Linked DNA regions of Homo sapiens: all the other regions are linked to region 3. Evidence: fine-mapped QTL for protein levels in blood plasma. Region 3 holds a variant in brackets. A gene starts in each other region. All regions are shown on their reverse strands. Region 1 holds the start of MYOM3 (myomesin 3). Region 2 holds the start of MYL3 (myosin light chain 3). Region 3 overlaps ANO5 (anoctamin 5).

Evidence for each region. PIP is the posterior inclusion probability: the model's chance that the variant is causal. The UK Biobank Pharma Proteomics Project read protein levels with antibody pairs (Olink). The fine-mapping took linkage between variants from a reference panel, not from the people measured, so its PIPs are less certain.
Region 1: it holds the start of MYOM3, and the variant in region 3 is fine-mapped to the plasma level of the MYOM3 protein (UK Biobank, PIP above 0.99).
Region 2: it holds the start of MYL3, and the variant in region 3 is fine-mapped to the plasma level of the MYL3 protein (UK Biobank, PIP 0.98).

What each region holds. Positions count from the first base shown.
Region 1 is chr1:24,109,968-24,114,205 of GRCh38, reverse strand. It overlaps MYOM3 (myomesin 3), which reads left to right and starts at 2,071. Exons shown (of 37, transcript NM_152372.4): 1 at 2,071-2,175. RefSeq lists an enhancer at 1,361-1,869.
Region 2 is chr3:46,861,061-46,865,298 of GRCh38, reverse strand. It overlaps MYL3 (myosin light chain 3), which reads left to right and starts at 1,855. Exons shown (of 7, transcript NM_000258.3): 1 at 1,855-2,037. The coding sequence starts at 1,909.
Region 3 is chr11:22,246,442-22,250,651 of GRCh38, reverse strand. ANO5 (anoctamin 5) reads right to left here. Exons shown (of 22, transcript NM_213599.3): 10 at 281-415. Among named protein-coding and RNA genes, the nearest start is that of ANO5, 55 kb to the right of the region's middle. The variant T/A (reference allele first, on the strand shown) is at 328.

The DNA.
Region 1 (4,238 bases), not on the chromosome of region 3:
AATGACTGTCTCCTGCTCAGTTGGAAGCTCAAAGCCCTCTTTGCTGTTCGTACGGATTCACTCACACTCATCCCTCACAGCAAATGTATGAAGATGAGTCTTGGAAAGCCCTTGTTCGATTGGGTCAATAGAAGATGGGAGAGAAATGTTCTCTCCCAAAAGATGCTGTAAGAGAGAGCCACAGAAGAGCTTAGAAAGGGGTTTTCAAATAGGGCAGGGGATTCAGATTTTGCCTGCAAAGTTCACTTGTGCTCTCTCTCTCCTTCTCTCGAGTGAGGAGTCCCTGAGGCACCAGCAAGAGTGACAGGTGTAGTGTGGGTGGCCACCTGAGGTCGCAGGAAGGGGTGAGGGAGGGAAGCTGTGCTCTCTGGCTAGGGGCCGGTACAGCCTTCCCCTCACCGGCTCATCCTCTGAGACTCGACCCAGGTGCACCTTCCTGATCACCTCCTGTCGTAAGTGCCTGACTTCCCCTGTAGGTTAGGGTCTGGCATAGGGTAGGTGCCAATGAATGTGAGGGGGAAAGAATTGAGACTGAGGGAATGGCAGGAGAGGGCAAAGGGTGGGAAGAGGTGTGGTGCCGAACACCTATTAACCTCAGTAGGGAAGGCACCAGGTTTGAGAGGCCAAAGAAAAGATCCATAGCCAGCAAACGGAACATGGGGGTTTCAGGAGGCGGAGGTTGCAGTGAGCTGAGATCATGCCACTGCACTCCAGCCTGGACAACAAAGTGAGACTCTGACTCAAGAAGGAAAGAAAGAAGGAAAGAAGGAAAGAAAGAAAGAAAGAAAGAGAGAGAGAAGGAAGGAAGGAAGGAAGGAGGGGGGGAGGGAAAGAAGGAAAGAAGGAAGGAAGGAAGGAAAGAGAAAGAAGAAAGAAAGAAAGAAAGAAAGAAAGAAAGAAAGAAAGAAAGAAAGAAAGAAAGAAAGAAAGAAAGAAAGAAAGAAAAAGAAAGGGAGAGAAGGAAGGGAAGGAAGGAAAGGAAGGAACGTGGGGGTTTGTTAGGGGCTTGCCTACAGGAGAGAGAGTCCACTGGTGATGAACTGGACAGGAGAACCGCCTTACATACAGAAATGGTCCAGGGGCGGCGGGCTGGACAACATACCAGTGGCGGCCGACTGGGCAGGAAAACCTCAGCCCCTTGCAAACAGCATGCAGTTTATAGAGCATTTTCACTTTACACCATCCCCTAATGACCTCCACCTGGCAATCTTCATTTAACCCAAAACTCAGGGCCTCAATCCCCTGTATGGCCAGCGTTCCACCAGAAGGGACGGGACGGGGGCTCAGATATTCATCGTAGGTAAGAAACGGGTTGGCTACTCCCCAGATTCCTTAGCTCGGAACACATATTCAGGTCTTCCACACAGGGTCATTCTTGGAGCGTGCTTCAGTTATCCCTGTCAGGTGCGTTTACCCTATAAGAAGGCCCTTCAGGGGACACTCTGGCAGCCTGAGCAGTTTGCACAGTGAAGCAGTAGGTGGCTCCCCAGCTCCTCCTGCCTGCACCACACCACACACACATGACTGTGGTCAGGGCGGGGGCCGTGTAGTAACTACCGGAGTGGTGGAGGGACCAGGAGCCACACATTGCTGTTTTAGCCAGTGACAACTTCTGAGCACGAAACACTCACTTTTAGGTCATATTCCTTCCACCGTCTTCATGAAGTCCAGGTGCCCAGTCTCACTGTCTCCGTTTTTCAGAAGGCAGTCAGTTCAGGGAAGCTGAGCGCCTTCCCCAGGGCACCCAGTCAGCCGGGGCAGAATTCAGATCAGAACTCCCGACAGCTGAGAACGCCGCACGGGATCTGCCCTCCATACGACCATGCCTGAGCCGTTCCCTCCTTTCCATTTTAACAGGGGCTTGGGTTGGGCAGAAAGGACCCAGCTGAGAGGAGGAGCAGTGTGGGGGGACGCGGCGGACAGCTCCACCTGTCGCTGCTGCCCAGCAGGCTGGAGACACGGAATGGCCCCTCCCCTTGGCCCCCTGTCCCCGATGCCATAGTTCTCATCCATTGTCATTGTACTGTCTCAGTGCTGCTATATTTAAGACGGTGCAGTCTCCGGGATCGCATTCTTCTCCCGGTGCCCGCTGAGCCGAGGGCAAGAAGAGAACAAGGACCCTCTCGGCCTCAGGAATCTTCTCCCCAGAGACTCCTAAGTGGGCACACTGCTTCTGTGAGTCACCCCCAGAAATCAGGGTGGGGGAGGGATGCCTCCTAAGAGTCAGCCACTGGGGAGTGATATCTGTGGGTGCATGTGTGTGTGTGTGTGCACGTGTGTGTGTTTGTGTGTATGTGTGTTGTGTGTTGTGAAAGGAGCCTGGGAAATTTGTGCTGAGGCAGCACCCAAGTGAAAATGGGAGGGGATTCCAGAAACCCCTGCCCCATCCCACTGTTCTGTGTGGCCCTGGGTCTTCTGAGAGCTGAGCTGTCTGTGATGTGAAAGTTGCAAAAAAAAAAAAAAGAGTGGGGGCTGCCCTGGGAACTGGAGTCTTTCCTGTGATGGAGCAGCGATAAGCGGGAGCCAGGCTAAGCTGGCAAGTTCCACGAACTTAGAGCGGAGCTGGCTGAGCCCGGCTTGGCCAACCCCACAGGCAGGGAAAGAGAGCGAGCCCTCGGATCCCAAATCTTAGAGCTGGAAGGGATTTCATCCAGTGCCTGACAGGAAACCGAGGCCCAGACGGGAAAGGAGTTGCCTCAGCTCATGACTGGCAAGGGCAGGATTCGGCCTCGCGGAAGCTGGTGGAGCCACTGGCTAAGAACACGTCCCAGCCTGTGCCACCCGCCGCCCGCAGGATGTGTCTCTGCTCCCAGCCACCATCCGCCCCCATCGCAGCTCCTGGAGGGGTCTTGGCTCAACTGCTGTGCATTCCTCTTTCCCTCCTGAAGAAGGGGAGAGGCCTCCTCGGCAGATGGAGGCTTGGGAGGAAAGCAGAGGGGAATAGGGAAGGCCACGCAGTGGGACCTCTGGCCCAGATTTTTGCACCCCAAGAGAGGGAAGCGGGGGCAGTTTCCCCTCCACGCAGGCACACACAGTGTTCCGGGAAGAGGCACCCTGGTCCTTTGGGAAAGGGCAGTGAGGCCGCAAACTTGTCCCTGCTTAATACCACGCATCAGTCAGTGCTTTAAAAAGAATTGGTAGCTCATCCGCTAAAGCCAGGGGTCTGGTTGCTGGAGGCCCCGAGGTCAGGGACGAGCGCCAGGCCCCTGCCTGCTGTGCTAATCGGGAACAGAGCATCCAGGGGAAGGGAGCCAGTGGCTGGTGCCAGGGAATGTTAACTCTCAGCCACTGGAGCCAGGGCCATCGTGTCCCAGGAAAGCTGGGGCAGAGTGGGGGGTCCTTGCTCCACCTAGGGTGGTACCCAGCAGCTCTCCTCCTGGGCCATGAGGAAGAAAGAGCAGAATGAGCAGGGCTAGCCACTTCTTTGGGTGCAAAGAGAACTTCTTCCATCGGGAGGGAGTGATACGAAGCCAAAGAGGGTGACTGTCCCATTATGTCATTTGAGATGATTAGCAGGAGCCCAGGGAGCTTTAGGGGGCAGCCCTTGGTCCCAGCTAACCCTGCAGCCATCCATTCTCTTTTTCCTGATGCCCACAACTGCAGACACCCAAAAGGAGCAAACTTCTAGGAAGTAGAAGGGGTAAAAGCCCACTAAGACTGACCCTCCACAGCCCGAGCCCCAGACACCTCCACCACATGCCCCTTCCAGGCCAACGGCTCTCCAATAAAGCCAGTGGGCTCACCTTCCATGCCATGGACTTAGAGAAATGGTCACCTAGGTGCTGTGTTCACATCCAGGCAGAAGACAGCCTACACATGCACGCACACACACACATACACACACATGCACGCCCACACACACACACGCTGCCACCTCCAGCAGGACCCTCTAGAGAGGCAGGGGCCAGACAGAGCTGACCCCACAGAAGCTGACAGGAGCAGGCCAAGGCAGGCGGTCATCCCTCTTCTGTTTCCATCCCCACGCCTGGGCAGGAACCCTCCCATGCCAGAAGCCTGCAGACCAGGATTCCCACCTGGAGGAGGTGTGAAAGCCATTCCAGGGATTTTAGCTTTAGCATCAGGGGGGCCCTCAGAGACCCAGCAGTGACTGAAGCCCGGATATGAGAAAACTCAGTGCAAAAACCCACAGCCAGCGGGCACACGGGCCTCCCACACCCCTCGTTTGCCTCTCCATATCCATGGATCCGCTTCCTGAGCCTCCCCTGGGTCAATCTGAT
Region 2 (4,238 bases), not on the chromosome of region 3:
AAAAGTGAAAAACTTGCCCCCCCGCCAGTCCCGGATGTTGTCAGATTTCCAGATGTGGGTGTTCTGCCCTCCAGATGAGAGGCAGAACGTGTTCCAGTCAGGAGCGGGCTGGCCCCAGCCCTGGACTGCTGTCCCTCCCTGTGAGGCGGAGTGACAGGATGAGAGGGACTGGGCCCAGTAGGAAGACAGCAGGGCGTGCCAGGTAGAGGCCCTGGGCCCCACAGCACCTCTCAGCCTCAGGCTTAGCCCCTTGCCACACCAGGGAAATCCCTGGCTTTGAAGTTTCTATCAAAGGCTCCAGGCACTTAAAAGTAACCAGGAGCACCTCCTTCCCACCCCCCAGGCACAGATGCTGGGCAAGGAACAGAGCCCAATGTGTTTACAAGATGTCCCCACTGTTGGCGTCCCCATGCGGGAAGAGCCTTGTGCCACCTCAGCCCTCCCACCTCCCCAAGTGGCAGTCCCGTCAGGCTGTACTCTGTCACTGTCATCTGCTGAAGGCTGGGCTTGGGATGGACCCTGGGGGCCGGGCACTGCAGGATGGGCACTGGGGGTGGGCACTGAGTGGTAGGAACAGGGAATGAGCATCACTGCACTGGGGCAGACCCTGCTTGGCAGCTTGGGGTTCCTCAGAGAGGCAGACCCTCTCAGAGCCCCTGCCAAAAGGGTCGGCAGAGGGCAACATGTGGCAGTGGAATAGCATTGGAGAGAGCTTTCTGGAAGAGGGCCAGTAGAGCCAAGCCTTGAATATGTCAGGCAGAGGGGGCGAGGGCACTCTGGGCAGAGGGTGCAGTGGGGAGCCAGGCCTGGGGTGTGTAGGGAAATGTGCATCCCTGGGGCCTGTAGAGAGGGGAAGTAGGAATCTAGGGGTGAAAGCTGAGAAACTGGTCCCTGGGCCAGCAGGGGCTGAAGAGGGAGGCTGCTGAACTGGCCTGGGGCGACTGCCCTAGAGGGAGCAGCATCCTTTCTCTTGCCCTTTGTGGGGGTTCCTGGAGACCCTTGGACCCATAGCCAGGGCTACAGCTGCCTGCCATGACCAGACACTCACATACAGACACATGTAAACACCCAGACATAAACACACAGAAGCAACACCCGCAGACACACTCACATAGACACATAGACACACCACGCACACATAAAGACCCAGACCCACAGAGACAAATGCAGACACCCGGGCCATCCCTTACATAGACACAGATACGGAGCACACATAGGCACGCACAGAGCCCCCCACCACGGAGGCACCCAGACAATACACACAGGTGTACACAGACCCCCCTCCACACAAACACAGACACAGAGAGACCCACAGACACATAGACACCCCGACACAGACACAGACAACACACACAGACACATGCTGACTTCCGCCTTCCCCCACATGGACACGGTCATAGACACAGACACAGACACAGGGGACTTTGGAGAGCTTAAGTTCAGAGGTGCCCTTAGATCATCCCAGTCCTTCTGGCCCCAACACAACACGTAGCATGTACTTGGTCCACCCTTCTTCACCTCTTCAACTTACGGACCTGCAGAGAGGCAGCAGGGCCCTGTGTGGGTATGTGCGGGTGTGCAGATGAGTGTGTGTGTATGTGTGTATGTGTGTGTTAAGCAGTGGCCTTTGTCCCCCTCTCTCCCTCCCCCTTCCCAACAGGTGATTGGGAGGAATGGAGATCCCTCCTCCACTACCCATTCCTGAGCCTGAACAATGCCCTCCCCAGGCCCCAAAATAGCCCCTAAGCCTAGCCATATCCTTTTATGGCCCTGTCCCTATTGTGCACTGCAGGGGTGGGGCTGGGGTCATGAGGTATCCGGGCAGGATAAAGGCCTGGGTGAGGCGGCTCACCTACCCTGCTTTCTGCATTCTTCTCTCCACATCCCTCTCTGTACTTACAGCCCCCAATGGCCCCCAAAAAGCCAGAGCCCAAGAAGGATGATGCCAAGGCAGCCCCCAAGGCAGCTCCAGCTCCCGCACCTCCCCCTGAGCCTGAGCGCCCTAAGGAGGTCGAGTTTGATGCTTCCAAGATCAAGGTGGGTATGGAAGCTGGGTGGTGGCAATAGGAGCAGGGCAAGTGAGTGGATCCCAGAGTGGACCTAGCAAGAGGCAGGTCAGGCTCTGGAGGTGAGCACTGAGCTGACGCTGGAAGCTTCTGTGCAGAGGTCAGACAAGCCCTGACTGCTTCAGGCATCAGAAGGGCTGCAGCAGGAGGGATGGTGGTCAGACGTTCTGCAGGACTCCTCTGGTGCTGCTGAGAACTAAGGTGGAGTCTAGACTGGGGTTTGAGTCTGGACTGTCTTTTTAGTGGTTTTGGAAATGGACTCTCCCTTGCCCTTCTTCCTGGACTTCTCATCCTTGGGGAATCCTGGAGTCAGCTGGAGCCAGGCAGGGATTTTCCTTGTTCAGCTGAGGGGTCCCAAGTCCATACACGCTCCCAGCGTGGATGAGATAGGGAGTAAGAAGAAGCAGGGCCCCTGTCCAGGCTGGGTCTCGTTCAAATCACCGAGCCCAGAGCTGGTAGAGCACTTCCAGGCCTCAGCTTTTAGGTAGGGAACTTGAAGCATCAGCTGGCTGGGGACATTCTGAAAGCTGTGCAGGAAGCTGGTCATGGAGCTATGACCAGTGGCCCCAGGAGCCCTTCCCCAACTGCAAAGTCTTTCTCAGAGTCTAAACTTGGAGGGAGCCATGACTCCCACCTGTGGTATCTGCATAGCAGCACGTACCCTGTGTCCTGCCTGCTCCCTGTTCTTGGCTGGGACCACTGCTGCCCTGGCTGCCTCCTCAGGAGCCCTGTGGAACCCTCGCCATCCCTGCATGCCCAGCAGGACCTACATTCCATCGGTGAAGTCTTGCCTCCTGTTCATGAGCCCTTCCCAGAGACACCTACCATGTCCTTTGAGGCAAGGGTTCAAATCCCAACTCTGCTCCATTTTAGTTGCCAAGTTCTTCGCTGCTCTGAGGCGTGGTTTCCTCAGCTGTGAAACAGAACAGCAAGTCCCCTCTTGCAGGGCTGCTGGGAACCATTCAGAGTATATGCACCTGGAGTTGGCCACCCAGGTCCCAGGCTTGCATTCTGCAGGCCTCATGGTGAGGCTGTGACCACAGCCACGGCCCATAGTGGCATTGTCCTTTCTCGCCAGGCCTTAGGTTGGCACAGACTTCCTTCTGAGAGGTGGGGACAATGAGACCCCTCATGCGCCCTCTTCCCCCATCCCCAGGTTGCAGGTAAAGGGCAGGGAGCCTTTGCCAGGAGCCCAGAGACCCTAATCTCAGTAGGCTTCCTGGTGGAGAGAGCTCTCAGGGAGCCAGGAATGACAACCTGTTCTTCCCAACACTGGGTCAAGCCAGAAGCCAGGAGGGACAGTCATGGTAGGGTGGCCCTGAACAGGGTGTCCCTCTGTGCCGGCATGCACTGTGGAGATTGGTGGGGCTCCGTGGCAGCAGCCATGAGAGAGACGCCAGTCATGCCCCTCCCCCAACCTCCTTTCCCTTGTGTGACCTTGACCTTGGGGCGAGTGACTGCAGTGATAAAAATAGACCTGGTATCCGGTGAGGAGGGGGACACTGGATCCCGGGAGGCCTCTTGATTGACGTCAATCAAGGTGGCCCCAATGTGACTTCAGCAAACACTCAGCAGCACTGCCCTGGCCCTGTGCTGTCCTGGGGTGTGGGAGCTTCCCAGGGACCTACGGACAGGGTGTGTGAGAAATAGGTATAGTGGGGCTGGTGAGTGACTGCCTGGTCTTTAGGGCTTAGGGGGCTCTGTGAGGGCAGACGTATGTAGACACATGCTCACACACAAACATGCACACTTGTGCTCACCCTCGATGCTTCCAGCCACCAGCCCTCGGCCTGTACCATTGCCCTTACTCCTTCTACCACCCTGGGCCCTCCCATCTCACTTTTGCTGACAGTCCTGCCCACCAGGCCCCAAGCAAAGCCAGCCTGACTGGGGCTTGTGGCTTAAGGTACATCTGTCCAGAACCGGGAGCATCAGGTAAGGCCCACGCTGGCCTGAGGCCTTGGGCATGTGGCCTCCCTCCTCACTGCTACCCCTGCCAGGGTCCACCGAGCATCAGGGCCTCGGTGCACACAGCCTCAAGGCCTTCTGGCTGGAGAGGTGGAGGGGGGCAAGGAGGCAGGAGGGCGTCAAGATGGACTGCAGGAGGTCCTGGGGGTGCAGGCTGGGATGCTGGAATGGGACAGGCTGAGACAGTTGACATTCTGGGCTGGC
Region 3 (4,210 bases):
TTCTCACATATAACAGAAGGGGCAATCAAGCAGCAATTTCTATAGTGGGTCAAGTCATGCTTTGAGGAGTAGAGTTTTCAGAGCCCAGCTTTAAAAACAGATTTTCCATAAAGCACCAGGTGAGAGGCAACTGTTATGTTTGAGTAGTTTTTGGAAAATATCGATTATCTGCTGCTATAAGGAAACATTCTGAAGGAAATGCCAGGGAAATAATAACAACAACTTCATTTGGCACAAGATAAAGATGTTTTCTCTATCTGGGCAACTCAGGTGCACTTACCTGCTTGTGTTATGTTCCATTGATAATAAGCCATAAATAAAACAAGC[T/A]AAGCCAACTACAGCTGCAAAGAATAGCATTTCTGTGTAAAATCCAAGAAAGACAAAATAGATACCAATTTTTTCTCCATAATAATTCCTGTGAAAAAGAGTAAAAACAGAATCAGAATATGGAAGAATGTTATAGTCTGGAGCCTTGATTTTGTATTCAGACAGGCATATATTCTAATTTTGGCTCCACTGCTTTCTAGACATGTAATTTTGGTGAAGTTACTCAACTCTCTAAACTTCAGTTTCCATATCATTATCATGTTTTAACACAAGATGGTGCTTATGCCATACTGCAAGGACTGATACAAGGATTAAAAGGGATAACAGATATAAGTAGAAAGCCAATTAAACGGAATTTAACTTTAAAATTTAAATAAGATAATTTGGAAAGCCTCTGTATTATAAAGAGAATTTAAATGGTTTTTAAATAAACTACAGAATATTCTACAATGTAATTTCTAGGAATGAACTTAACAAATCAAAACCATATCCAAAATCTGCATGGACTTTTGCTTTATCTCTCTAAAACTGAAAACATTTCTCTGACCGCATTGTAGATATACATTTCCATCTTTCTCCAAGTTTGAATCTTGGATGTTTACAGGATTGTGACATATGCAGCAGGCCAAGGAATTAAACATGACTACTTTAGCAAAAATTCTATGAAATATGCAGCCTAGCTCTTGGTTTTCAAAGAATTGAAAAGTGACAGCGTTTATCGGCACAACATTTTAATTCTCACAACCAAGTGTTTTGTTTTTAACTTAGTACCCATTTAGGAATGAGAGAAAGTAGTTTTCTCCTCCTCAGAAAGTCAGGTTTTCTTGTTGTTGTTGTTTAACCTGATTAATCTTCCTCCTTATTCATATAGATCCCAGCTCACCAAATCTGTGAGTCTTTCCACAGTTTCCTAGGCAGAAAGATGTGATACCTTTTGTGTTCTAGTAGCATGCCATATGATTCTGTGAAAGTACTTAATATTAAATTGTAATTTCTATATATGCTTAACAAGAACACATATCTGAACATAAAGGTTATAAACATTTTTTCTCAATGAGATTTTAAAATGTATTTATCATATTCAATATTAACTTTATTGAACATCCCATTCTTCATATTTCAACACTCTTAATATTAATAGGCATCTTTCTGTTTATCCTGTCTTTTTTCATTCTTTTCAGTGATGATGAACATTGTTGCATTGTTAATTTCCCTAATTTGGTTTTCCAGATCACTATAAACTTGAAATTAAATTATAATGCCATCATATTCCCTTGCTAATCTGCCATTCACAACTTCCTTAGCTTACTCAGAGTGAATGAACTTTTTCTCCCAGTTTTTTTCTGAAAAATGTAGAAATTATTGTAATAGTACATGACATCAAAATCAGAAAAAGTACAAAAATATATTTTATGAAATTTACTGTTTACCATGTCTATTTTTAATGTTTTAAAAATGGCAGAATCAATGTTATTAGAAATATAATATCAACATTATTGCTATAGACTTAACTTAAAAATTCTTTAAGTATTCATAAGGAAACTGGATATTTCAACAATCTTAGTTTTAAAGTACTACTTTTTTCTCCTTTTCAATTGTCACAAGTCTTATTCCTTGAGCATAAAAAACAAAATCCCTCAAGAACTCTAAACCTGTCAAAAAAAGAAATTGCTGAGAATTTACTAAATGAAATCAGGTAAGTATTTATTACATGTGGAAATATACAAATTATCTTACTAAACTTTGGACTTGGGTATCTAACAGTAACAGATTAACAACGAAATAATCTTTCAGGATCTCAGAAAGCAGGAGATATTTCTTAGATTTGCAATATGGTAAAAATGCATACATTATTGAAATCACATTTAATATTTAATTTAAACTATCTTGTTAGTCATAACTAAGAAAATAAGAGAAATCTAATAACATGAGACACTCTACAAAAGCTCAAATATAGGGAGAGCCTTCTTTTGAGTATTATTTTTTAGAAAAATATGCCATATATTTAAATCTATGATCTTTTTTAACCTGTCCATTTTAATTATTAGACTTTCAACTGATCTGTGGCACTGCACCATTTAACACAGCATCTGATAGGTAGATGTGTGTTAGATACTGTGTGAGGGGACTGCTCTCATTTTGTATTTCCAAGATGTAATATTTAGTTGAAGACATAGTAAATAATCAAAAGAATGATGATAGAATTAAATTGAATACAATCTTGATAAATCAATCAATGCAAACATTTTTTTCTAAAATGACTTATTTTTACAATGAATCCATAAACATCTGAGAAACTTAGCTTCAGTATTATCCTCACATTGTAATAACATTATCTGTACCACACATATATTTAGTCTATGCTATTTAGTATGTAGCAGTATTTCAATTTTGTTTCTAAGCATTAACATACAACATATGGATATCAAAAACAAATTACCTGAAGTGTAAGCTGGAAGGAAAAAAAAATGAGCTGATAGAGCTGATGTGCCAGTGATCAGTCTTCAACTTTATATGCTCCATCAGCCCATTTTTCTCAATCTTAGCATTGCCATTTTCCCCAAAAATATTATCTAATGTGACAAAACTATCTGTGCTCAAAAGGCAGAAAAACCACTTCCAGATATCTGGACATTAAAGTGATGTTTGGTATAGAGGTAACATGAAATATGTGAAATCTAGGAACTCAGATTCCTATAAACTGTATCTCTTTCTAGACACCCTATCATTCTGTCTTCCTTATTTTTGTCCTCCATATCCAATAATCCATTAGGGCCAATGAATTCTGTCATAAAAATATTTTTTCTAATTCATAGTCTCCTCTCCTTCCTGTTGTCAATGCCTTGAAAAGACCTCCAAAATTTATTGCTGGACAATTTTAACAGCCTTTACTTCCCTGAGTTCAATCTTATATCCATCTAAATTATCTTTTGTTTCCAATAAAATGATGTTTCTAAAGAAAAATTGAGCAATATCCTTTTCTTCCTTCAAAGCTTCATCTTTTTACTTCAGCATTGTTCTTCAGGATTTTGTTCCTGGTGAACATTCAAATCTTCTTTGCCAACACTCCTACTTGAAGAACTAAACAAACACACAATGCTCTTGTGTGTTCTCTTTGCCTGAGATATTCTTACCTAACTTCTTTCCCTACTATACTGCTACTTATCTTTCAAGACATAGTTCAAAAGCACTGTGAAGCTTTCCTAGAGGTTGTCATGAAGATAGGTGCTTTTCCCTCTGTATTTTGTTTGGAGTATTACTGTGCTGTAACTAATACGCATTTGTGTGTGTTCCTGCAAACAAATTCATGTTAGGAAACCACCATCTGATTATCTTTGTAGGCACAGTACCTTGCTTGATATGTAGTGATGCTTAATAAAGTCTCATTAAAAGAAATGTGTCAATTGTAATTATGCATATATGAATAAATTCTTTTCTTTTTTGCTTTTTTTTTTTTTTTTTTTTTTTGAAACAGGGTCTCACTCTGTTGTGCTAGGTTGTAGGGTAGTGGTGCGATCTCGGCTCATCGCAACCTCTGTTTCCCAGGTTCAAGCAATTCTCCTGCCTCAGCCTCCAAAGTAGCTGAGATTACAGTTGTGTGCGCCACCACGCTGGGGTAATTTTTGTAGTAGTAGTATTATTATTTTTTAGGTAGAAACGGGGTTTCACCATGTTGACCAGAATCGTCTCAAACTCCTGACCTAAAGTGATCTGCCTGCCTTGGCCTTCCAAAGTGCTGAGATTACAGGCAAATTCTTTCTATTTTAAGAATATTTTAACTTTTATCAAGTCTACCCACAAAACCTTTACTAAAACCCATGAAATCAACAAGGAGAGGAAAAACACCCAAACCCAATACAGGCCTTCAGTATCATGACAGAGA